Linked DNA regions of Homo sapiens. The protein of the gene in region 1 interacts with the protein of each later gene in a pairwise test. Each region holds a gene or a part of one and is shown in the gene's direction. Other genes may lie near its edges.

Region 1 (6,561 bases):
ACAAGCAAGCAAACATAGTCTGGCTTGAGGGAAGATGCCAGTATGTGATCATAAATTGGACAAAATCATTCAAGACAGCCGCATTTTAATCAGATCAAATTTCAAAATTTCAAATATCTATAAGCATTTTATGTTCTTAAAAACATGAGAAACTTGCAAGATATCATTAAATTCAAAGGTTTCCAAAACCAGTTTGAAACACATTTGTATGTCTTAAAACCTTTTGTGAAGTTTAGCTGTATTTAGACAAGTAAAATTTTATTTACGTATCTCCAGAGTCAAAATACAAAACCCAAGCGATCAGGGCAAAGTGGAAGCAACCAACCCCAACCTCCCCGCATGGAAACAGATAGTGTGCGCTGGTCACATCCAGGGACGTGCTCCATGCAATCCACAAACTAAGATCTGCCCCGACCATATTATATGGACCATATAAAAATTAAAGTAGCTGTATATGTACTTTACTGACATAGAAACAAGTCTATGTTATATTGCTAAGTATAAAATTCAAATTTTAGAATGTCAATAGTATAATCCCACTGAAGTAAAAAAAAATTGATATGTTTTTCAAGTTTGAGTCTATAATCTTTGTATGGGAATTTTTAGTAAAGCGTATATATTCATCTACAGCTTAACTTTTTAGTCTTAAAAAAGGCAAAAGTGAAATTTCGACGATGAAATCCACGGTTGTAACCAGCAATACCACACTTGCACGGTTGCAATACTCGCGCTCTTCGCACTGTAACCTCTGGAATCCACTGTAACCTCTCGAATCCGCTGTCACCCGAGATCTCTTAACCTGGCGGTCCCCTGCCAGGACTCGGGCGGCCGTCAAGAGTGCGCAGGCGCAAGCGCGGCCGCCGTCGGTGGGGTTTTATGTGCTGTTGAGACTGCTGTTGAGCTTCTGGGCCTTTTTAAGACTGCCTTCCAAAAGACGACGTGATGACTCTAAAGAGAAAGGAAAATTTGTTGCGTACGCAGAAGGGCAGGCTGGGCGCACTCTGAGCGTCTTTCGGGGACCGACGGCCTCGCCCACGTGCTTCCGGGCACCAGCGCGCCCAAAGCCCGTGCACTAGGAAACGCACAAAAGCACCAGCGGGCGAGCCCGAGGGCGAGCCCACGGGTAGCCAGGAGGCGGCGAGGGCGGCTTGTCTTCCAGAGACTGGGGAATCAAGAAAGGCAGAGCCACCTCCTCGGCCCCAGCGCAGCAAGTGCAGGAGGCAGGGAGGGCGCAGCGCCCCGCCGTCCACGGTACCCGTGGAACCCGGTGCGCGCCCCGGGAGCTGGGGCGGCTCAGGCCCAGCGTGCCCAGAAAGCCAACCACGTTGGTCAGGAGGACGTTCTCCCACTATCCGCGATCCTCAGGCTCTGATTAAAGTCAAATTAAAAGGAGCTATCCGTTCCGGTATCTGTTGTTACTCTTGTGATAAATATGGTGTTTGATACGAAAGTATCTTAATAGTCATGCTGCCAATCAAAGAACAAAACACGTAAAGCCTGTGCGCTAAGAACACGAGAGCATTTCGCTCCTCAGGAGGTGCAGTTTATCTTGTCTCCTTTGTTTCATATATAATTCCAAGGAGAATTCCTTGTTATCAACACATTTTGCTCTTTGCCTTTGGGGGATGACATAGGCATATTGCATTTGATCAGATTAGTGTTAACCTTCCACCCACGTTTTTACTACATGCTGTACCATTAATACAGCAGGATTTTATACCTTTAACCGCAAAATTCAAGAGCAGAAAAATACTCAAATTGTATGTTAGTTTAACATGAAAACGAGTTATTTCAGCCCTGATAGGATACTTTTAAACCAATACTACCTAACAAATATGTTTCTTATTCGTATAAGCCCATACACATGGTTTTTTAAATGAGTTTTATAAATAATAATTAGCATTGAGGCCCTGATCTAAGTATTTGAAACTCTGTTACTCTTCACAACAATCCTGAGATGGGCATATTTTCCTCATTTTGCAGATAAGGAAACAGGCACTGGGATGGTAAGAAACCCAGGCCATCTGGCCCCTAATAGCCTTTTACCACCATGCTAAAGCTTTACCCATTTTTGAGATCCAAAATATTACATAGTGCACACATATTTGGTAACCAAATCAGGATTAAACATTAAAGTTAAGGGCCAAGCACAGTGCCCTGTAATCCTAGCATTTTGGGAAGCTGAGGCGGGCAGATCGCTTGACCTCAGGAGTTCAAGACCAGCCTGGAAAACATGGTGAAACCCCATCTCAACAAAAAAATACAAAAATAGTTGGGTGTGGTGGTGTGTGCCTGTGGTCCCAGCTACTTGGGAGGCTGAGGTGGGAGGATCGCTTGAGCCAAGGAGGCAGAGGTTGCAGTGAACCAAGATCACACCACTGCACTCCAGCCTGGGTGACATAGTGAGACGCTGTCTCAAAAAGAAAAAAGCAAAATTAAAGTAAGAACATAATAAGAAATATGTTTGGCACTGTGTTACGGGGAGAAAAAATCAATAGGGAGATAAATCCTGCTTTCAGGGTAAGTGCAATTTGCTGAGTAAAAGAAATATTTTAAGATACCTTAAAAAAGAAAACAAAGGCTGTTGTAAATTGGATATTCAATTAAATATTCTTGGGCAGATTGGCAGATGATAGATCTAATGAACTTGGGGTTTATAAATACACAGAATGCCACATTTTCACTAATACCTTATGTTTTGGGTAAAGAGTAAAACCAACTTTGAAAATGAATTGTGTATGCAATTATCTTAAAAATAAAGATTATATAATAAGTCACATTATCTTGCATTATGTGTAATATCTAGGGGGTTAAGGCACTCTCATTCTGCTAATATTCACAGCACTCCTATTATATAACCATTTCAGAGCCCTGAATTATAATCCTAACTAGGTGACAGTTACTGAGTAAATTTTGCAATGTAGATTTATTATAGAATATAATTGTATTACTTTTTCTCTATTCATTGGCATCCTTTTATATTTGGGGTTTGACACAATTGCACACAACAATCTTTCTACTAAAATATTCCATAGAGTTGGCCAGGCATGGTGGCTCACGCCTGTAATCCTAGCACTTTGGGAGGCTGAGGCAGGTGGATCACCTGGGGTCAGGAGTTTGAGACCAGCCTGGCCAACATGGTGAAACCCCATCTCTACTAAAAATACAAAAGTTAGCTGGGCATGGTGGCATGCGCCTGTAATCCCAGCTACTCGGGAGGCTGAGGCGGGAGAATCGCTTGAACCCAGGTGGCGGAGGTTGCAGTGAGCGGAGATCGTGCCATTGCACTCCAGCCTGGGCAACAAGAGCGAAACTCTGTCTCAAAAAAAAAAAAAAGATTGAGGCTCAAGCAGGTTAAATATTATACACACACTAGATCACATACTAAGCCACACAGGTTGTATAGAATAGAAATCCTATTCCAGGGCTTCACAGACCTCAAATTGTTTCTGTAAATGGTTCATGTTTATTAATTTACCTTCTCAAAGTCAATATACTTCAAAAACAGAACTGCTATCATTAAAATGTGGTTACACATAACCTAACACATAAGTGCTTTAGAAGAAGGGAACTTTACCATTTGATTTTTTAAAATATAGATCCTAACACTTTTGTGTGTGTGTGTTTTCTCATGAATATGGTAATATTATTGGTCCTTTTTCCAAAGATATGGTATGAAATTAATTTTTTGCTTAGAGTCAGGATCTTGCTCCATCATCCAGCCTGGTGTGCAGTGGCACGATCATAGCTCACTATAGCCTCAAACTCCTCAGTTCAAGTCTCCTCCCGCCCCAGCCTCCAAAGTAGCTAGGACTATAGGAGTGCACCACCACACTCAGCTAACTTTATTATTATTTTTTGTAGAGGCAGGTCTCAAATTCTTGGCCTCAAGTGGCCCTTCCACCTTAGCCTCCCAAAGCACTGGTATTATAGGCATAACTCACTGCACTTGGTAGAAAATTAATTTTCATTATAAAAATCAGAAAGAAAGATCTTATTGTCTGATGGCCAATACCCTGAATTTCATTCCAACTTCTGGTTTTCTACATTATATGTAGGTACCAGTGATTTTGTGCCATTTTTATTTCTTCAGATTTTTCCTCTTCTACAATTCTCCCATATGTGTTATTATTTGAAGCCCTGATCACAGCTCTGAATCATTTCTATTCTTTTGTCTCCCCCAACTCTGGTTCAAAACTTCGGTAACTCATTTGCTACGAAGTCTAGAATCTCTCTTGCAAGTGAGCTGACCGGTTGGGCCAAATCGCCTTGGAAGGGAAGGATTGTTAGGAAGTCAGTATGTTGCTAAGATGTCTTGCTAATTTGCTGTGTAAGCTGCATAGAGTGTCAGGGGATTCTCCTTTCCACTGATGAATTTAGGTGTGTGTTATGACCTGTATCAGTGATTCTATTTGGATTGATTAAGGTTGCAATTTTTTATCCATATGAATGTTGCACCTAGTTTTTCCCTGTAATTGGTTAAACAAATGTCTGCTGTTTGCATTTTAACTCTTAGCCAATACCTGCTGGAAGTGATTTAATGCAGCTGGAGAATGACACTAACAATCATTACAGCCTGCAAAGTGTGAAACAATTTCATTGTGCTTTGTGGTCTCTTTAGTCTGAGGACTGATAATGTGCAGCGGATGAGACTTGAAAAAAACGTATTTTATTATAATTTAAGAAATAATGTAAAAGAGGGGTGAGTTCTGAGGCAGCTCCATGCTGTTTGTCTGGCATGAGCTTGTTTTTATAAGAATTCACTTCAAGTGTGGAAGGGAAATGCTTTCATCTGAAAGGGATAGCTGTGCTTCATTCCGGTTTCTCCCTCCATCTGATAAAAACTCTTGCTGAGTGACAGCACAGATGTAGCTCATTTGGAACAAGTGAAGGAAAAGGAGAAAAGGGATGAGGTGGAGCGAAGGAGTAGTCAGTCATGTTTCCAAAGTCCCGCGGTTTCCCCTAGTCTCTTCATTCACTCCAGCGGCCCTGGTGTCCCCCTGCAAAGTGCGATGCCCTCGCCCCTGGCCCTACGCCCCTACCTCCGGAGCGAGTTTTCCCCATCGGTGGACGCGCGGCCCTGCAGCAGTCCCTCAGAGCTACCTGCGAAGCTGCTTCTGGGGGCCACTCTTCCTCGGGCCCCGCGGCTGCCGCGCCGGCTGGCCTGGTGCTCCATTGACTGGGAGCAGGTGTGCTTGCTGCAGAGGCTGGGAGCTGGAGGGTTTGGCTCGGTGTACAAGGCGACTTACCGCGGTGTTCCTGTGGCCATAAAGCAAGTGAACAAGTGCACCAAGAACCGACTAGCATCTCGGCGGAGTTTCTGGGCTGAGCTCAACGTAGCAAGGCTGCGCCACGATAACATCGTGCGCGTGGTGGCTGCCAGCACGCGCACGCCCGCAGGGTCCAATAGCCTAGGGACCATCATCATGGAGTTCGGTGGCAACGTCACTTTACACCAAGTCATCTATGGCGCCGCCGGCCACCCTGAGGGGGACGCAGGGGAGCCTCACTGCCGCACTGGAGGACAGTTAAGTTTGGGAAAGTGTCTCAAGTACTCACTAGATGTTGTGAACGGCCTGCTCTTCCTCCACTCGCAAAGCATTGTGCACTTGGACCTGAAGCCCGCGAACATCTTGATCAGTGAGCAGGATGTCTGTAAAATTAGTGACTTCGGTTGCTCTGAGAAGTTGGAAGATCTGCTGTGCTTCCAGACACCCTCTTACCCTCTAGGAGGCACATACACCCACCGCGCCCCGGAGCTCCTGAAAGGAGAGGGCGTGACGCCTAAAGCCGACATTTATTCCTTTGCCATCACTCTCTGGCAAATGACTACCAAGCAGGCGCCGTATTCGGGGGAGCGGCAGCACATACTGTACGCGGTGGTGGCCTACGACCTGCGCCCGTCCCTCTCCGCTGCCGTCTTCGAGGACTCGCTCCCCGGGCAGCGCCTTGGGGACGTCATCCAGCGCTGCTGGAGACCCAGCGCGGCGCAGAGGCCGAGCGCGCGGCTGCTTTTGGTGGATCTCACCTCTTTGAAAGCTGAACTCGGCTGACTGAAAACCTGGTCAAGATAAGTTTTTGTCTGATTCTATTTGTTTTTAAAGGAAGTGGAGATGTCGAAGAAAACATATTTGTAGGATGGAGTTTTAGAAAATAAAGTTACTAAAAACTCCTTTAGTCTCCAGTGCTTTTTCTAGGACACATTAGCAAAGCTACAAGTCTAGTACCTGTTGTCTCAGTACTGTTAGTAACTAATCTTATTCATATAGTCATGTGCTTTGCTTTCCATTGCTAGTATTTCATTTATTTAAATTTGTTATTGATAAAAGTTTGTCCAAAATAGAACTCCACTGCAGAAATGTCAAAATTTTCTATAAATCCATATATATCCCATACCTACCACATAAATTCCAACTATTAATGGTGTAGTTGCTCCCACACCAAATCAGTAAAAACTTTTAAAAAAATAAGTAATGCTTTCCTACTACTCCCCCCAGTAAAACTTCTTGTTTGTAATGACCTTCACTCATAAAAGTCATACACTGAGGTACATTTACATTC
Region 2 (7,031 bases), on another chromosome or scaffold:
CTGCAGTTCAGTAGGAGAAATAACACAGTTATAATGCAGTACAGAATCTGGGTGTCAGACATAAAAATGTCAGACTCTAGCAATGTAGGATTCTGAGATGAGAGAAGAAATAGTCTTTCAAATTAGCAAAAATAAGTTTTTAAATAGAAATGAAACTACAAGCAGTTAAACATTCAGAACAATCTTAACTCCAGTTGTTCTCATCTTTTAACTCTTGCTTCACACATATCCTTTTCTCATATTCTCTTGAGTCACATTTTCGGTTTGATCTACCACACTACTAGCTATGTGATCTTGTGCCCTGGTTGTCGCATTTATGAAGGATAATAACAATACCTGCTTCGTAGGGGTGTGATTAGAAAAATAGGTTAGTATCCAGAACAATGCCTGGAAAAATAGCTCATACTTACTGAGCACTTAATATTTCTACTTGATATAAAAATGCTGTAATTGAGTAAGAACAGACTTTAAAGACAGGATTTTTTTTTTGTCATGCTAGATCTATCCATGAGCGTCTAATAAAGCCTCTACATTCAGAGAAACTAACATTCTTTTAAACTGAGATTCTTGAACAAGTGATTTTCCTTTTCTTATTTGGTGATCATCTTTCTGAAGTCTGATTTTCATTTTTACCCCTCAGCTTTGTCATTAAGTCACTAATCACCGAATTCAACACTTTTTAAAATTCAAAACCTGCCCATTCTATGGCATTTGCTGCTGTGTATCACCCTTTCTCTTTAAAAGTCTTCTCCCTTGGCTTTCCTGAAGTCCGTTCCCCTGTCTCTTTGTATCTCTTGTGTCTGGGTCTGCTTCACTCGCTTATGTTGATGTTCTTTGGGGTTTGTTCTCCTGCCCCTTTTTTCTTTATGAATTCATCTATCTAAATGTGCTCGGATGTCTTGTGAGTTCTAGGCCTAGAGTTTATCCCCATGTGAATGTCTCATAAGGGCATCTCCAAACCCAGTAAGCTACACAAAGCTCATTATCTCCACACATTTGCCCAAACCCAGTTTTACTAACTTTACTCCTCTGTTCCCTTTATCTAAATGACACTATTATCTGTCAAGTGCCAAAGACAGGTTTTTATGTGAGAGAGTAGATGCCTCCCTTTTGTGTACTTGTCACCATGTCCTGAATTATTTCTTACCTGTTCTTCACTATCCTCAGTCACTGACTAAGTCAGCCAGCTGGTCCCTGACCATTAATTGCCCAGTTTACTATAATATCTGTCTCAAAGATTTTTTTTTCAGATTATAAAAGTATTGTATGCTTTTTGTAAAAAAATTTTAAAAATTAAGATAAAAAGCAAAAAAGTATTTAAGTTACTTCATGTGTAGTTCTTGGCATACAGTCAGCACTGAGAATATATTTTTGTGCCACGGTGCTACAAATAGAACTTATTTTGCAAGCATTAAGTTTGGAGGAGATTTGTAGAGAAATATTGTTCTAAAAGAATTGTAGGACTAAATAATTTTGAAATCGTATATAGAGCCTAAATAGTGTAAAGTAGATACTTAAAATTCAAGATGGGTTCCAGCCACTGCCTATACTTTTCATTTGCCTGTTAATTGTAATCTGGTTGTGCTTTCCTATCTATTTTATTCTCTATTCTATAGCCTTCGATTTTATTTTCTATTCTATAGCCAAATTTCAGGAATATCCCCCTGCATAGGATCTAGACTATAAAAGCAAGCCAACATCATAGAAATAATCTGTAAGTACAACCCATCATTAGCCATGTTGTTTTATAATGAGGCGATAGGCTCAGAGAATTGATATCATTTGCTCAGCATATTTGTTGAATGTCAGGAGGAAACCAGGCCTGTGAGGCTTTGGAATCATAAATAGCTAGTTTTTAGTCTTTCCAGGTTAAATAGCTGGATTTTATTTCTGTCTTCCAGGTTTGTAACTGTAAGTTACCTAATCTGTTGCCTCAGTTTCTTCCATCAATAAACCAGTGCTATCTTTACTCCTTCCTAGGGCTAGCGTGAGGATTAAGTGATAACAGCTAATGGAGCCCCATCTGGCATGCATTAGGTGCTCTTGAGTTCATCATCAGCTTCTCTCCTACCAGTTTCACATAATTAGCTAGTACAGGAGTTATTAACTTGCCATCCATGGATCCTTTGCAAATGGATGGCTTCATAGATCCTCTGAAACTCTAGCCCAAATTGCCTGTTCTTGTACTTTTAAAGGAAGAGGGTCATTGGCTTTGGGTTTTGGGACCCAAAACATTTTAACCCCTGAGTTGGCAGTAAGGCCAAGGACCCAGGGCTCTTGGTGCCTCCACAGCCAAACTGACTGGGTAGAATTTAGAATTGTTTGAAATATTGGAGGAACATTTTATATATATGTATTTAAAGCATTTTAAAGGACTTCAGGTGTAAAGAATTAGTTTATATTCCTTGGCTCATGACACGTTTGTTTAATTGGTCCATTTATAGTTTTAATAATACAGTAAGTACCACCTAACCCTGTGCATAACCCTGTGGGCCCCTCCATTCCTTTTTCCTCTGTCCCTCACCTGAGGCAGCTATTTACTGAATCCTATATTCATCATTCTCTCGGTGTCTTTTATAGTTTTATTGCATCACATAATTTAAAACTGTATATATTACATGCCCTATCTTCTGAAAATTTTTTCATTTTATAATACTGAAATTTATATTATGTGTCACTGAAGTTTTCTGATTACTGCATAATATTCCATTTTGTGCATATGGCATAATTTATCCATTCTCCTGTTGGTGGTATATGGGTTGTTTCCAGGGTGATACTCTTGTGCTACTCGCTATTGTGAAGAATGCTGCTGTATAGGTGCACACCTCCTGGCATACGTAGGCAAGAGTTTCGATTGGGTTTCACTAGGAGTGGACTTGCTGGGCTGTAGAGTATGTGAATAGGATAAATGAATATTCAGCTGATGAACTGTTTATTTTTCAGAGTTTCCCCCCATCCTCTAAGGTTTAATAAGCTGCTTAGCCAGGCATTCCCTAGGACTGTTATTTTCAGCCTCCATTTAGTGCTTTGGAACACTTTTACATCATTCTTGGAATCCATTTTGTAGGACCCTTAGATAAGAATTCCTTTTTGGTGTTCTCTAATTGAAAGTGCATATAAATAGAATACTAATTTATACTGAACCACATTCTATAGAACACAGCAGTGATTCTCAAACTTTGTCAGAATTACGTGGAGGTTCTCCCACCACTAAAGTTTCTGAATCTGTAGGTCTGTAGTGGCACTTGATAATTTGCATTTTTATTGAGTCAGGTGATGTTGATGCTGCTGGTCCCAGGACCACACGTTGACAACTATAACCAATGATTGAATTTGGGCTAAATCATTGAAAAAACGATGAGTAGATTTATTAATTATGTTTGGTTTCTTTGTTATTTCCAATGCCTTTAGTAGATGCTATTACCATTTCATTATTTGAGGAGTGAAATACCAATAAATAGTAATTTTAAAATTTGATTTGGACTTCTTAGCTGACTTTTAACCTTAAAAGTTGATAGACTTCTAAAAGTGCCTCTTTTTTTTCTTGTTTCTTAATAATCTTCTAAGAATATGATTGCTGCTATTCCTGTGTGTACATTGGAAGAATTTGAAACTGATACACTGTTTGTAAATTGCCATGCTCTTGATTCATACCCTGAATCACCTTTCTCCTTCTCTGAGCTGTTACCAATCAAGATTACGTTGAAAGCCCTTCCAAATTGCAGCATGGCCAAAGTGTTGACTTGTCTATCATACTAAAACAGCAGCAAACCTTACACTAATACATCCTTGAACTTGGACATTCATTCAGCAATCTTGACTGGGCTCCAACCTTGGAGTGAGTGATGATGCCTGTTACCGAAGTGGGGTACAAAGAATATGCTGACAAGCCTGCCAAATGAGAACTCAGTTGTGGTGGGAGAGAAATTTTATTCCTGTTAGATCTGTGCTGTAATACAGTTCATGTTAAGTGTTCTAGAAGCACAGAGAGAAGGGATGGCAGTGCAGGGAAAGCCTGGCAATATATTTGCTAGGTTTTTCAAAATTTTTTTGAATTGCTACATCCAGAATTTAATATTTTGTCTGCTTTTGTGTAGTTCCCATTCCAGTTATTCAATTGGCATAATTATTTGATTATAATTTAGTTTCAGGTGAGGTGGTAAAGAAGAGAATACTTGTTCGGTTTGAAAAAGCAGCTTGAGGGGAGGAAGAGCATTAGGACAAATAACTAATGCATGCGGGGCTTAAAACCTAGATGACGGATTGATAGGTGCAGCAAACCTGCACGTTCTGCACATGTATCCCAAAACTTAAAAAAAAAAAAAGCAGCTTGAATATTGTATCCTTCCCCCTCTCCTGTACTAAAGATAGTAGGGTGTAATGTTAAATGTGCTAGACTACCAGGGTTTGAATTTTGGCTTTGTCATGTTCCAGCTCTGTATCCTAGGTCAAGAAAACTCCAGGCTTCAGTTTCCTTATCTGTAATGGGGGAAAGTATTTGGATCATTGTAAGATTGAATAAGTTCGTACACATAAAATGCTTAGAATTGTTCCAAGTAATTGCTACATGCTTAATAAATTATTTTATTGTTATTAAAATTAGGTAGAATCTCATTTGCTAAACATTGGGTTGTAAAGACAATGTGTGCACATTGTTATAAAAATGTGAAGAAAAGGCAGTGCGTGATGGCTCACACCTGTAATCCCAGCATTTTGGAGGCCAAGGTGGGAGGATCACGAGGTCAGGAATTCGAGACCAGTCTGGCCAACATGGTGAAACCCCATCTCTACTAAAAATACAAAAATTAGCAGGTGCGGTGGCATGCGCCTGTAGTCCCAGCTACTCGGGAGGTCAAGGCAGGAGAATTGCTTGAACCCAGGAAGCAGAGGTTGCAGTGAGCTGAGATCACACCCCACTGCACTCCAGCCTGGGCAACAGAGCAAGACTCCGTCTCAAAAAAAAAAAAAAAAGTGAAGACAAAATAATTTTGATATAAATAGCTGTACTCAGTTCCATATTGGGTCCTATGAGAAATGTAAAAATCAAAAGATAATAGAACTTGAAATTCTTTAAAGGTCATCTAGTTTGACTTCATAATTGAAACCCAAAGAAATTATGACCGGTTCAAGGTTTCTCAGTACATAACAGAAGTGTTGCTGAGAACCATGGCCTCTGATGCTACTCAGTCCAGCGCTCTCTCAGTACCCTGTGCAGCTTCCCTGAAGTGACAGCGCCCTGGAAAACTAACAGTTTAATTGGCAGCCAAGTCCAAAACAGGTGAAAACATTAGCAATAAAAAGTCAGTATATAATGGAATATCAGATGGTGTACATAGATTAAGTCCCTACCGTATTTAACTTTGTGAGCTGCTCTCTTGAAGCGGAAATGCACCTTCTTAGTAATTTCATTCATTGAAGGTTGAAAGATGAAGAGCATTTGTTTTTGAAGAGGGTGTTAATAAAGTCAATTTCCCTCTTTCCTCCTACCAAGGTTGGATTGTTCATTAAGCCAGGGGGAGAGTCCACTTTTGCCAGGTCTGCCAGTACTCCATGGCTTTGCCCTTGATGATAGTTGGGGAAAAGTCTGGCCTCTGTATTTCTGTTCCCTGTCTTCCTGATGGGCCAGATTCCCACAGACATTCCCTCAGGTATGAAGACTGCATTACCCTTGCTCATGGGTATGCGTACATATGTGGAACAGGTGCTAGAAGTGTACCTGATTGGTGGGATTTGTCTAAGTCGAGATTTCCACTCAAGGACAGGGCTGCTACTTTTTGGGATTGAGCTAAGAGTACTTTCACACATTATCTCATTTAATTGTGCTTGAATACTCTGCTGCTAAAAATTTTACAGAATAATACATGCTCCTATAACATTCAAGCTATATAAAGATATGCTATGGAAGAGGTGAAAGCCCTGCTCTTCTACCCCTCCCTGTACCCAAATTATTCCATCCCAAGAAGTGTCATTTGTGACATTTTGTAACTTTTCCAGAACTTTCCCCTAAATATATATAGGTAGTTTGAGTTAACAAAAAATGGTGATCATACTGTTCTAATTAACCTGTAACTTCTTTTTTTGTGCTATACATGCATATGTGCTTTAATCTTTAATAATCCCAGAATAGCCTGGCTGTACCATATGTGTTGGTTTTTAACAGTTTGTCCATGATGGATATTAAGATTGTCTCTAGTTTTTTGCCATTTCAAATAATACTGCAATTCAACAATGTCCTCAATATATATTATGCTTGCTCTCTTATATGCCTAGAAGTATGATTGTTTAGTGGAAAGATTTACACATTTCAAATATTTGTATACTGTTGGAATTGCCCTTTAAAACAACAAACTACTGATCTCTGGTAAAGTGCTATTTCCCTTACATAATTGACTATCTTAAAAAACTGTAGGACATTTGTATAATTTTCTAACCAGTTTTTGCCCAACAAGACTGCTTGCTGTTTTATTTTATGCATTTTTTATCACTCATGCCATTCTACCATTGGTTTTGGTGGTTCAGAATGGTGCTGTTTATCCCCATTTCCTGTGCTTATCATCACCATAATTGCCTTTTAAAAACATAAATTTTTTTTCTTAATATGAAAAACACTTTCATTTATAGAAAATTTGGAAGACACAATAAAATAAAAGTTATATTTTTGTGCATGAAAGTACATAAAGAAAGGAATGAAAGTCCTGCCCTTGCCTTTTCCCTATTTTTTAAGTTGGTTTTTCCTTGCAATTTTTTCTGTCCTTATACCAACTTTTGTGTTTATAGAGCAGAATTTATGCCTGTACATATCTACTGATATTTGTTTTTTTTTCCTGAGGACTAAATAAGCTCATATTAGATATGGTTTTGTAACTTTTTTACATTACTTAACAAAATATCATGGAAGTCTTTCCAAGAGTAAAATAGCTAATAATAGCTAGCATTTATTGAGCACTTACCATGTACCCATGACCTTTTTTTAAGCCCTCTACATGCATAAGTTTATTTAATAAAATTATTAAAGAAATTTGGTAACTAAA
Region 3 (7,031 bases), on another chromosome or scaffold:
CTCACAACATACCTGAAAAATGGGTATCATCATCCCAGTGGGAAGATGAGCAAGCCCAGGCACAGACAGAGTAAGTGCACAGTTCAGGATCACACAGCTGGCAGATGAAGGAGATCCGTTAGCCAGGATGGTCTCGATCTCCTGACCTTGTGATCCGCCCGCCTCGGCCTCCCAAAGTGCTGTGATTACAGGCGTGAGCCACTGTGCCCAGCCGATTTCTTAAAATATTAAGGGTAATCTGAGGGTGATCAATTTTTCCAAAGCATCTGAAAGAGATTGGTTGCTCCATTTTTCCTTTTCTGTTTTAAAAACAATCTGGTCGGCCAGGCGCGGTGGCTCACGCCTGTAATCCCAGCACTTTGGGAGGCCGAGGTGGGCGGATCACGAGGTCAGGAGATCGAGACCATCCTAGCTAACACAGTGAAACCCTGTCTCTACTAAAAATACAAAAAAAATTAGCCAGACATGTCCATGGAATTAGAGCCCAGGGTGTGCTGGGGCCAGGAGAGATGATGTCTGGAGGTGAACTTGAAAAGAAAATTGGGGCCAGATTGTGAGGAGCTTCATATGTTATTATTTGGAGGCTGAGTTTTTATTCTTTGGCCTTGGAAATTTATGGATTTTTTTTTTTCAAAAGGTGGACTATTGTGATGCTTTGTAAAAACGGCTCTCATGGCTTAGGAGGAACATTTTAGTGTAGTCTTTAGGGTTAGGGTTTTGGAATCAAGAGGTGGGTACAAACCCTGTCTCCTTCATCTGCCAGCTGTGTGATCCTGAACTGTGCACTTACGCTGTCTGTGCCTGGGCTTGCTCATCTTCCCACTGGGATGATGATACCCATTTTTCAGGTATGTTGTGAGGATTACATGAGACCCACATTACTTGGCATCAAGTAAACTTGGAATCAATAATGATAATATCTCTTTTCTGACTCTTGGACTTGAGAGTCCTTCAGGATTTTGAAACCATGTTAGTTGTAGTGACTTCCTTGGAGCCCTTTTGGAAACTATTAGAAGTTTCCTGGGGCCAGCTTGCTTGTGACACCCCCAATGGGAGGTGTCCATGACTGAGGGCAGGGTGTATGTAAGGCTTTGTTCACCTCACTGGACTTTAGTTTTATAGTGACTTTATTGAAAATATCCTGCAGTAATGCAAAAACACTTACTTTTTAGGAGTTAGAAATGGAGTCAATATATCTTCAAAAGCACCTTGGGGCCTGTTTAACTCAAGGTCTTGCAGAAGTGGCAAGAGTTCGCCCAGTGGATCCGATAGAATATTTAGCATTGTGGATTTACAAGTATAAGGAAAATGTGACCATGGAACAACTGGTAAGTAGGAATCTCCTTCTAGGAAATTAGAAGAAAAAAAACTGGTCCAACTTGTCTGCTTTTAAAAAAGTTTAACATTATTATTTTTCTGTTATAAAAATAATGTTTATTATACAAAAACTTGAACAACATGAAAAGCAGGAAGGAGAAAACATTACCCAAAGAAGACTTCTATTTAGATTTTTAGGTAATTCCTTTCATGGGAAGTCTTTTTTCTATAGATTTATAGATTTACGTTTATGTACTTGTGATCATACACAATGTATAACTTTAATATTGTGCTCATTATTCAGATAAAATATCTTCCCAAATTATTATATCATTTCCACAGGGATGGGCTATAATTTGCTTAACACTTTCCCTAATTGTTCCTATTAAGTGCTTTCAAGATTGCTTTTACAAATTGCTTTCTCGCTAAGAAGTCGTGTGCTGTTGTTTTTAAACAATGCTAGAGACAAAAGGAAATGGCCAAGCTGGAGCGTGAAAGAGAATTAGCTCTGATGGAGCAGGAAATGATGGAGAGGCTCAAAGCAGAGGAGCTCTTACTTCAGCAGGTGAGGCAAGTAGGAGAGTTCAGAGGGGACTGGAATTAACGATGCCAACCTCAGCATGGCACAGCCTAAATGTTGATAAACTTCCCAGCTCCAGTTATTTAGATATGGCTTCCTAATATCTTCATCTTTATGGATGTGTGTGTCTTCTTTGCTGGAGAAGCAGCAGCCATGAGTTTTCCTGAGTGCATTCTTGTATACACATATACACATTCCTTTCCACACTGTTGTTGCTGATACAAAAGATGCCATACCTCCAGGTAAGAGGAAAATACAGAGTGTGCTGTCACAGAAGGCAAAGGGAAAGACTGTTTTGGTGAGATCTGAGTGGTCAACCATATCTATTGCTGAATGGAAAAGTGTTCATGAGAGGCCACCGTAATTTGGCGGGAACAGTGTGGATGGAGTGGTGGGGGTGGGTGGACTTAGGCAGGGGAGGTGGAAAATGTAGGCAATGCTTTCAAGGAGATTTTGATAGCAAGGAGAGATGTTTTTGTGTTTGTTTTGATTTAAGAGCACAGTAGTGGAGGAGTGAGTGGGTGACATTAGGAAATAGAGTGGATGATTCGTAGGGTCAGCTCACCATGGAGATGAGAGGAAATGGGCCTGGATCATAGGTTGGGCAGGGAGAAGGCACTTCTTTGATTATAATCAAGGGAAAGAGGAGAGAATGGTGTTGGTGGAAGCACCTTCTGCGTACAACTGTTTCTGTCTTCTTTATGAAGTAGGCACCATGTTCACTTGCTAAGAACAAGGTTGTAAGGTAGGAGGTGTGGGCAGAGTGGTGAAGTTAGAAATGACAGCTTTGGAGAATGGAAGAGAGAGTTGAGGGATATAATTTAGCATTACTTGGTAGCAGTTGAAGATCAAGTACTGATAATCGTGCCATTTGATTTGGTTATGTGATGATGTGATTCTCTTCACTTGGGCCCAGATGTCTGAGTGAAGAAGTGGAGCAGGCAGACCTTTTAATTGAAGCAGGATTGGGGTAGCATGATTAGGGAGCTGAAGATATTGGTAAGGGAATTGTTGAAGGGATGGGTCATGGAGTACAAGCTGGAGAGAGGAAAGTTCCAGAATGGCTTCTGGACTGATTTAATTTATAGAGAGCTTCTAAGCTAAATTTAAGCCACTTCCATAGTTCTACCAGATAATACTTAACCCCAGAGTCTTGACTCAAATTTACATATTTAAAAAGGGGAAAGAAGCCTATTATTTGAGTATGTGGATAGAAAGAAAAATATAGACCTGGCAAATAGCTTCTCTGACTAACCTCCTATCCCTGATATTGAGGTAGAAAACTGCAGGCCCCTTAGAAGGATAGGGCTGTTGAAAACTCTACTCCTTCTGAGTCTTCATTTTCAGTCATTGGCTTATTCTTGAAGGGAGGTTAAAAAGTGTTGAGTTGGGTGTCAACTGTCATCCAAACAGGCCAGGTGCTTCCTGCAGCAGCCACAACTGTGGATGAGGAGCCATCCTTCCTCTTACAGCTCCTATAGCTGGTATCTGTTCCTGTCTATCAAAAATAAGAGAATTCCCAGAGGTTCTCCTTCCCCTAGGCAATTACATCGTAAGTGGGAGATACATAACTCTCTTCGGCTCGACTACTTTATCCTACTTATGCATAATTTGGCAATACTAGCAATAACAAGTTTCTCTAGCCATATTATGTTGACCGGTATGAACTAATCCACTGTGCATTGAATCCTAAGTATTGTAGTAGGGCGGAAGAGAAAATAATATTATACAGGAGATGTTATGGCCAGTTAGCGGAGTGGATTGGTGTGCAGAAATAGATAGGAGAGATCGATCAACAGAGAAAGGCTTGAGAGAGTGTGGCTGAGATGAAGAAAAACAGAGAGGCCTCTGGGTGCCTTCTGAGTCATGTAAGCTGGAGGTTGGGAACTCTGGTTATTTCCTTGCTGGTTGCAAAAGCAGTTGTCCTCATAGTCAGTACCACTGACTTGAAATTCCTTGATATTTTAGGCACTCTCCACAAGCCTAGTTTTTTGTGAACAGGGAAGTATTTTTATTGCCATTTTCTATGTAAGAGCTTAGTTTTGAAGTAAGAGCTTTTTTGTTTATTTGTTTTGAATGGCTTTCAGTGGTTTTGCTCATGTGTGAGGAAGGGGATTAGGTTTTGGAAGTTTCTTGAAAATGTCAAGAAGCTGGTTGTTTTGATCAATCTGACTGTTATTTAACAAATACACTTTGCATTATTGTTGAGAGATTGGAGTTATTTAACTTCCTCTACCAATGTCTGAAAGTTGATTGAAACTGTTTCTGCGTTTCAGCTACCTACCCCATCACTTTTATCTTAGTAGTGATAATATAGGAATACTAAGAAATTACCTTTAAAAGCTTTTGCAAATAAAATATCAAGCACTTTATTATATCTTTACTTGTAAAAATTTATTATTTTAGAATGCATTGTCAGATAGTAGACATTTTATGCTTTACAGGCCAAGAGGCAAATTTGATGATATTATGAAGGCATTATGGCATATTATGTAGGAATAACAAGAGAGAAAATGAATTTTTGCAAATGTTTTATTGATGAAATTCAAATAATAATCACTGAATATAAATTTTTTATTAGATAGGTTTACTATTGAGAATTTAAAAAAGTTTTTAAAAGATAACATTTCACTTGGTTGAAGTTCAGCGTTAGTGTGGTCTATCATCAAAATCTATTTTAAAATATTTATCTGCGGGCCGGGCGCGGTGGCTCACGCCTGTAATCCCAGCACTTTGGGAGGCCGAGGCGGGCGGATCACAGGGTCAGGAGATCGAGACCATCCTGGCGAACGCGGTGAAACCCCGTCTCTACTAAAAATACAAAAAATTAGCCGGGCGTGGTGGTGGGCTCCTGTAGTCCCAGCTACTCAGGAGACTGAGGGGGAAGAATGGCGCGAACCCAGGAGGCGGAGCTTGCAGTGAGCCGAGATCGCGCCACTGCAGTCCAGCCTGGGCGACAGAGCGAGACTCCGCCTCAAAAAAAAAAAGTTTATCTGCTAATGCTGATCTGTAATGAGGTTTTATGCATTTCATCCTTGAAAATGTCTTTTTACATAGTTACTGTCAAAAGTTGCTATCAGTCTATGTGTGTATAATTTAAATTAAGCATATTCATTCCTTAGAAGGTATTTCTAGAATTTTGTTTTTCTCTTGCTGTTTGCCTTTTAGCATGCATTACTTTGTAGAATAGCCACTTCCAACTGAAGGTTGATGGAAGCTTCTTAATTGCATAGTTAAATGGATTTCAGAATATGGAAATTTCCTTTGCACTTACGTTGAGGCCTTACAAACACTCTGGAATTGTAGTTCGAGGTTGGAAAATACATCCACTGACAATTTGTTTGGGAACGGAGATCTAATATCCTGTTCTAGTTTTGACAGCACTGGACGTGTATAAAGCAGCTTTACGTTACTTGTGATTCAAACAACATGAGCTGTTGTTGAAGTGAGTTTACTGCAGTGTAAGTTTTACATATGAGTGATGTTTTGCCATGTAATTTTAAAATGAATTAAGAAACATTATCAAGTCTGCAGCCAAAGCTAATTTCCAAAGCCATTTAATGTTTGATAATAGTGGTTGGGAGTATTTCTTCTCATTAAGAAAAATTTAAATCCTGTTTACCAATAACTTACTCGAAAAAGAAACCAAGAAAACAATCTTATTTATAATAGCTTCAAAAAGAATAATATACGTAGGAATAAATGTAACCAAGGAGGTGAAACATCTATACCTTGAAAACTGTAAAACACTAATGCAAAAAATTGAGGAAGACACAAATAAATGGAAAGATATCTTGTGTTCATATATCAGAAGAGTTAGTATTGTTAAAATGTCTATACTACCTAAAGTAATCTGCAGATTCATCTCAATCCCTATCAAAATTCCAATGGCATTCTTCACAGAAACAGAAAAACCCAATTCTAAAATTTGTATGGAAGTACAAAAGACCCTGAATAGCCAAAGCAATCCTAAGAAAGAAAAACGAAGTTGGAACTATCAAATTACTTGATCCAGAATTATATTACAAAGCCATAGTAATTACAACAGTATGGTATTGGCATAAAAACAGACACATAGACCAGTGGAACAGAATAGAGAACCCAGGAATAAGCCCAAGTATATACGGTCAACTAATTTTTGACAAGCCCTGCAAGAAAACACAAAGGGAAAAGGATAGTCTCTTCAATGAACGGTGTTGGGACAACTGGATATCCACATGCAAAAGAATGAAACTGGATCCTTGTCTTCCACCATACACAAAAATCAGTTCAAAATAGATTAAAGACCTAAATGGAAGACCTGAAACTGTAAAACTCCCGGAAGAAAACATAATGTAGAAAAAGCTCCTTGACATTGGTCTTGGCAATAATTTTTTGGGTATGACACCAAAAGCACAGGCAATAAAAGCAAACCTAAACAAATGGGACTAGGTCAAACTAAAATGCTCTTGCACAGCAAACAATCAGCAAAACAAAAAGGCAGCCTATGGATTGGGAGAAGATATTTGTGAACCATATATCTGATAAGGTCTGATAAGGAGTTAATCTCCAAAATATATAAGGAATGCAAACTCAATAGCAAAAAAAAAAAAAAAAAAAAAAAAAAAAAGGATCCCAATTAAAAAATGGGCAAAGGACCTAAATAGACATTTCTCCAAGGAAGATATAAAAGTGGCCAACAGGTATATTATCAAAAGTGACAAGTAATGTTCAACACCGCTAGTCATCAGGGAAGTGCAAATCAAAACCACTATGAGATACCACCTCGCCCCTATTAGGATGGCTGCTTTTTTTTTTTCTTTTTCGGACACAGAGTCTCGCTCTTTCACCCAGGCTGGAGTGAAGTGGCGTGATCTTAGCTCACTCCAACCTCTGCTCCCTGGGTTCAAGCGATTCTCCTGCCTCAGCCTCCTGAGTAGCTGGGATTACAGGCACCCGCCACCACACCTGGCTAATTTTTTTTTTGTATTTTTAGTAGAGACGGGGTTTCGCCATGTTGGCCAGGCTGGTCTTGAACTCCTGACCTCAGGTGATCCACCCACCTCGGCCTCCCAAAGTGTTAGGATTACAGGCATGAGCCACCGTGACCAGCCTAAGATGGCTGTTATCAGAAAGGGAAGAGACATGGCCGGGG
Region 4 (7,031 bases), on another chromosome or scaffold:
AAATCCAAGCTTTTGGGTAGGAGGATGAAAATCAATTTGTCTTATGATTCTTTGATAATTCCCTTAATATCAACTTCTTGCTTTCCTCCTGTCCCTTTCCAGGAAGTTTCTAAATGACAGCCCTGCTTTCCAAGATACCCCTTGCAATCTAGAGTGCTACCCATGACCTTGAAAAACCTGAAAACAATGACCCTTGTACTTTCTAATCTCCTTTATTACATTTCTGATAGTAGCTTGTGTTCTGGCTCTCCAGGTCTGAGATCTGTTCTCAGTTATTTCCCTGCTTAAGGTGATGTGGCTACCTTTACAGGACATCCACCATAGCGCATGTTTTCTCTTCTGCACCATCCCCATCTGACTCTGCTCCCACATGGTCTCCAGAGAAGTCTCTGCTGCCCTCAGACATTTATTGCACCTCTTACATATCCGTCAAGTTTCTATAAGTCTAAGCCTCTTTATTGTGTTGACAGGTTTGCAGCTACCAGTGATTTTATTTTTTTCTCATTTTTGATCTTTGGAGGTTGGCTTGAGAGAGTGAGATTTAGTCTGTGTTCACGTTCTAAACTATGCAATTTTCAAAGGATACTATTTTATAGCCATAGTCATCTATTTTTGTATTGATTACAAAAAATTACTTTAAGAGACTGATTTATTTGGATATTACAAAACAGACATCTAAATAAGTCTAGCAAATAAATTCAATGTAATTTAAGACTGAAAGATAAACACATTCAAATCTTGAGGGATACTGCAAAGCTTAAAAATAGGTATAACATCAATACATATGTAAGGAAATAGTTGTGTCTGGCATTAGACAATGGCTCTCATATCTCAATTACAGGGAGTGTAGTTGAACCCAGCTGCTACCTTCTGAATATTTGCAAATCAATTACTGGAACATTCACATTGGTTTTAGGTGACTCTTCACTGGCCTGCCAAGTGGCATATAGTGCATTCTTTTGGGAGTTTTCTCCATTGACTAGGTCCATTTAAAAAGTGATTGTCATCTTGGTACAACTTGAGGAAAAAGTAAATACACTATTTTGTATCTGAAGTGGCTGTTGATGTTTTCTTCTTTAGGAAATAAATTTATGACTTTAGACATTTTTGAGTTGAATTTGGAAGTTAATAAATATTTTCTCTAAATGATTTCAGTTCTCCCTCATAACACTAGGTTGTAGGAAAGAGTTTTCTTATGTTATAAAAAAGAAAAATTGAGGCAATCAGTCTAAAAGGAGAATTGGGACTCATCTGTAGGTTATTTTATTAAAAATCCTCTCTGCCTCACTGTGTTCACTACTATAAAATGTAAAACAGCTCTGGCAATAGCAGTAAGAGTTCAGAGCCAATGTACGGAGAAGTCCTTTTCATGTTATGTTATGGTAAGTCTAGTAACTGGATTCTTTTAGAGTGCTGTCTTAATTTTGCTTTGTGTGTAATCATTGTCATTGAAATACAGAAGGGCTTTTTCCTGGAGACTGTCATTATCTGCTTTCTCTTTCACTTAACAGTTATTTATGGAGCACACATACAGTGTGTGTCTGGTGCTGGGCTTATGAGCAAAATGACACAGTCCTGGTTTCATAAAGCTTACATTCCAGTTGTTGTTAATGATTACAATTGTCAGTATCTTTTCAACAATATCAAGCCATGGCAGTTGAAGAATGAGTAAATAGCTATGTTTAGAAAATGATCCAATGTTTTATCCTTCGGAATAATCACAATATTACAGTTTTTACAAGCAACTCAACTGATTCTGATATTCATACTTATTTTTCAGAACCAGTCCGTGTTTGTCCAGTTTCCTTTTATACCATGTTCTCCCCAAATCCTAACATTCCATAACTGCACAGACTCTTCTTGGTCTTGCACTGTTCAAACATTTTTCTTGCTTTCTGTGCTTGGTACACTCTGGGTCTGGCTGTGCTTTTCTGCCTTATTAAACTTCAATTTGCAGCTTAAATATCAATCATTTCCTCAAACAACCTTCTCCTTTTACCTGATTTATTGCAGGCCTTTCTATGACACTCAATTTTTTTTCCTTTGTAAAAAGATGCCCAATGTTACTCATATTCTATTTGTATTTTTAAAGTCATATATTCAGTTCCTCTTTGTTTCTTGATACATAAATAAGCTCAATAAATATTCATTCAGTAAGTGTAGTATTGGATATTTATGTACTTTTTCTCGACGTTTAATAAGAAATTGATGTCATTAAGTGAACAAATATTTTAGTGCTTACTGTACAAAGAATGTACTTTTACATTAAAATTTTCAGAAAACAGGTTTCAGTAATTTCTGCATTATCTGAAATTCATTTAATGCTAGAACACGCTATTGGTTAAAATTCACAGTTGAGTTAGAATTAAAATATTTTAGGAGTTTCTCTTCATCATCAGAAGCAAAGCAATGGAATTCTATTTCCATTTGATAAAATTATTGTAATTTTTATGATAAACTCTGAGAGCTTAAAATATTACCTGACTTTTTATTTATCATTTTAAGGTACATGCAATTAAATGCTTTTTAAGTTAGTGAATTTTCATATGATTCTTGGAAAAGAATGATGTGATAAGAAACAGTTTTACAAAATAAAAACTAAAACTTCTTATAATTTTATAAGACTTTTACTTTTTAATATATGTTATACACATATATTTATCAAATAATTTGTATGTTTTGATAAATCTGCCAATAGTAAAACATCAGAAGGCATTATTTAAGCTTTGTTGTTGCTACTGCTAAAATCATTACTTAAAAAAAATCTTAAGAGTTAAAATTTATTCATTCAGACCATGTATTACTTATTTAAAACCTTGGTTCTACTTGTTATCTGTTATTTAATGTTAAATCAATTTATTTAATTTTAACATTTAAAAGAATACTGCAAGTTCACAAAGACTTGACACAGCATATTTGTCCTTGCCCAAAAATACATTTGCTCTCCTTATATTAATTTTTCATTGCTAAGTTGCTGCCTTCTTGTGGCAACTTTATCATTTTTATTCTGATAAGTGAGGCAATGATAGAAACTTTAAGTATTAATCTTAACAATGAAAGTAATGGCAGGTACTAAATTAAATTGTGATATAATATTTTCACCTCATATTCCCAAACAAGCATCCCAAATGTCAAACTACATCATCTAAAATTTGACCCTTAGTTTATTATATATAATTGGTAAATGAGGTCTAGTGCCAAGAATGTAATTTTGGTTTCCTACATTTTGGAAGCCAGAACATCTCTTAGATTTGGGAACAGAACATTTTCTACAATAATGGTACAATTATATATATATGAAAAAGCAGTTTTTAGGCTTTTATATCATAATTTATTATGATACTATAAAGGATATTGTTGAAATGTAACATTTTTCTAAATGTTGACTAAGTTGTTGGGCTTTTAGAATTTAGCATGTCATAGCAACAGATTTTATAACAGTATAATAATTATAAAGTATGTTGCAATGAAGCCATTATAATCAACAATGTTAAAACAAGTAATTTAGAATTTTTATCCTTTTGAGATATTTTTAAAATGCCTCATACTCTAATCATCCTAAATAGTTTGCAAGGAATTTTGAGTAGTTGACCCTCTTCTGTCCCTACAATACCACAAATATGGTATTTGTGCTATTGTATTTATGGTATTATATGTATGGTATCATACTAATTTTACTAGTAAGAAAACTTAATAAGATAATAAATTTCTTGTCCAGAATTAGACAATGAGTAAATGGTGGGACCAGGATGAGATTCTAATAGATTTTCTACTGTAAAGAGTTACTCTGCTGTATAGATTTATGCAATAAATTACATTGATGTCTCGATATCCATATGCCTAAATATATGAGAGAAACATACATTTAAAAAATTTATATTACCACAGTGTTTCTCCTTTAAGTGTTACATTGCTAGACAAAGTGCTTTCTAATTACTTTGATTAATTTCACTTCTCACAAACCTTGTCAGATTAAATAAGTTGTCTACATTGGGGTAGATGAAGTTACCTGACTAAGCTTATCCAGAGAATAAATGGTGAAGTCACATTAGAATGCATAGCTCAGGACTATAATTTAGAGACAAAAAAGCTACTATTCACTTCTACTTACAATGTCCACAGAAAAATTATAGCAGACGAATATAATTTCATCTCATAATAATAAGCACTTAGATGTAATAAAACTGCAGAAAATAAATACATTTGATATTGCCTCTTTAAAACTTAAAGACATTAAAATAACAAAAACCAAAGGAGATATTAAAATTATCTTAAATCAGAATTTCTAGAGTAGGCTTCTGGTCATTGATAGTAATAAAAATCTCCTCATGTTGATATACCATGCAGCCTTGGTTGAGAACCATGGGAAGAGGGCAGAGGTTGACAAAACTTTAGTGTAAAGGACCACAAAGTAACTATTTTGGGCTTTACTACCTATATGGTCTCTCTCTCAACAGCTTAACTTACCCATTGTGTGTGAAGGCAGTTATAGGCAAAGTGTGAAGAAATGAGCGTGGCCATGTCCCAATACGATTTTATTTGTGGTATAGTTTGAATTTTATATAATTTAATGTTGAAAATGTTTTAATGTAAAATTTTAAAATATAAAATGATAAATTATATATATTTTTTCAATATAAAATTAAATTACTTTTTGCATTACTTTTTGGCAACTGCAAATGTTGCATAGATAGAGAGATAGAGAGATAGAGATAGAGAGATCCATATAGCATCTGTCTATTCCCTAGATAATTGAGTGAATGAATAAATGAAATATATCCAATCAAAATTGCCCATGAAATGATATTGTGTCTTCTCCACTGAGAATGTTTATCAGTTGAGAGTGGAGATTAATGTTCCCAAGAGCAGCAGTTCTTCACTTGACACATATATTTGAAAAATATGGTACATATGGCTGTAGAGATAGTTACATGAACCAAGAGGAAAAGTATATTTATCTACGGTTTGGCCTGATCTTAGGATTTTTGTATTTTTCTCATGTTTTCAAACAAATAGAATTTTCTTTTTAAAATTGTATCAGTGGACATATCCATGAACTTTTCTTAATGGGAGTCTGGTTGTGGGTGGCATTATCTTTTGGCAATTGCAAATGCTGCATGCTGCTTCTTTGTGTTTTCTGTGTGTAGCTAGAGAGATTGCAAGCTGAAAATACCTCGGAGTGGGACAAGAGGGAAATACTTGAAAGAGAAAAGCAGGGACTGGAGAGAGAAAATAGAAGGCTGAAGATCCAGGTGAAAGAAATGGAAGAGCTTTTGGATAAGAAAAATAGATTAAGTGCAAACTCTCAAAGTCCTGATTTCAAGATGTCACAAATTGATCTGCAAGAAAAAAACCAGGTATGGGTGCTCCTTGGAGCAAATTCTCACTGTCTAATCTCACTCTGATGCCTACGCAGAGTCTGTCTTCACTCGTACACGCCTCCACATTTGGATATTTCCTTTTGTGCCAGCTAATACCTGATACTCCTTGCTCTTTTGCCCACTAGGATGTAAAATAACGTTCATGCATCTGAAACAAAGTGTGTCAAATGTTAAAATATGACAAATCTTCAGACAGTTTCAAGATTTCCAAAAGGAAGAAGAAAAATGAAGTAAGAAATAGAACTTTCTGGTTTTTTGTTTCTTATTAAAGCTTTGTCTCAGTATTTTCTAAGCTAATGATCTTATTTCCAATAAAGATTTTTTCATTAATTCAAGCGACTATACAATAAGCATTTGCTGGTAGCTATGGTAAGTATCTGCATAAACATTTAAATTTAGCTGAAACTCACTGCTTTCTGGTTCTTTTTTGTCAGTTTCAGAACGATTATTTTTGAGCTAATGAAATGCATAATTTTTCAAATAATTTTTCCAGCCTGTGGTATAAATCTTAAAACCAGGATAACATTCAGAATTTAAATTTGGGAAATTTAATTTTGGATGTGTTTTATCCCCAAGCCAGTAGATATAGTTTATGCTATAGACGGACATTTTTTTGATAGTTTACAGATTTTTAAATGTGCTTTTAATGGCAGTCTTATAGTTTTAATGTGGGTTCGTGTCAATGTGCTGTAAATTATATTTACCTTGTTTCTATTTTTCAATTATATATAGCATCTTAATGCACAATTCTATTTCTCACTCAGTTTCTTTAACAGTTTTAAAAGGTGAATTTGATAAGTTCATAGTTTTGAGATATTTAAGTCATTCATACTCACATAAGCTCTAAAACCTAAATGGCCAGAAAAATTGAATTCCATATTATTTCATCATTCTTTCATGAATCTAGGGATTTATTGCAAATGCAAGATTAAATTGTATTAGTGTTTCATGACCTAGCAATGCAAATATCTAAAGTTAAATGTTATAGTCCGTGACCATAATTTTCTATTATATTGATTCATAAACTATCCATAATAATGTATTTGATTCTGACATATGTACACTGATAAATCTGTAGACATCTTATTTTGGAGATCTCTACTCTAAAAAGTGCAGAATTATCTCAATTATGGACTGTGGTTTGATTATAGAAATACTTTTTATTTGATTTATTCAAACAAGACAAACATTTATTCGTATTATTCTCTGTGTCAGTCACTGTTCTATATGCAGGTAATGAGAATATTAATCAATGAATCATTATCCCCACCCAGCATGGGCTTAGAGTCTATATAGGGAGTCAAACACACAAATTTTTATAAATAAAACATTATAGTGATTGCTAAGAATAAAGTGGAAGGGGACACAGATTAAGAAGCAATTGATTATATTTGATTTTGGCACCTTTCTAGTTGTATCAAAATGTATTAATATAAAGTATATCTTTCGGGAAAAATTGAGACCTGTTTGGAGCTGGCATTGGCGTAACCTGTCATCAGGGCACACCGAGTCCAGACCTGGTCTCTTTGACAATGTAGTTATTTGGGCTGGGACTAAGCAGAACTTGGAAACTGAGAGGATCCTCAAAGGTCTAAGTCAGTGGGTATGCTGATCACTTAGAAGACTGTAGGATTTTTTAAGTATATATCA

Evidence for each region.
Region 2: the proteins of MOS (region 1) and SSX2IP interact in binary tests that used the Homo sapiens proteins (3 or more experiments, as listed by UniProt).
Region 3: the proteins of MOS (region 1) and DYDC1 interact in binary tests that used the Homo sapiens proteins (3 or more experiments, as listed by UniProt).
Region 4: the proteins of MOS (region 1) and CCDC102B interact in binary tests that used the Homo sapiens proteins (3 or more experiments, as listed by UniProt).

What each region holds. Positions count from the first base shown.
Region 1 is NC_000008.11:56,112,434-56,118,994, reverse strand, and holds MOS (proto-oncogene serine/threonine-protein kinase mos), read left to right. Parts: upstream 1-5,012; coding exon 5,013-6,053; downstream 6,054-6,561.
Region 2 is NC_000001.11:84,680,445-84,687,475, reverse strand, and holds part of SSX2IP (afadin- and alpha-actinin-binding protein), read left to right. Parts: intron 1-5,008; exon of another isoform or gene 5,009-5,278; intron 5,279-5,491; exon of another isoform or gene 5,492-5,648; intron 5,649-7,031. UniProt on the Homo sapiens protein: Belongs to an adhesion system, which plays a role in the organization of homotypic, interneuronal and heterotypic cell-cell adherens junctions (AJs).
Region 3 is NC_000010.11:80,346,752-80,353,782, reverse strand, and holds part of DYDC1 (DPY30 domain-containing protein 1), read left to right. Parts: intron 1-1,165; exon of another isoform or gene 1,166-1,172; 5' UTR 1,173-1,181; coding exon 1,182-1,328; exon of another isoform or gene 1,329-1,346; intron 1,347-1,780; coding exon 1,781-1,882; intron 1,883-7,031. UniProt on the Homo sapiens protein: Functions as part of axonemal radial spoke complexes that play an important part in the motility of sperm and cilia. Plays a crucial role during acrosome biogenesis.
Region 4 is NC_000018.10:68,892,072-68,899,102, forward strand, and holds part of CCDC102B (coiled-coil domain-containing protein 102B), read left to right. Parts: intron 1-5,147; coding exon 5,148-5,357; intron 5,358-7,031. UniProt on the Homo sapiens protein: During interphase, forms fibers at the proximal ends of centrioles to maintain centrosome cohesion. During mitosis, dissociates from the centrosome following phosphorylation to allow centrosome separation. Contributes to CROCC/rootletin filament formation.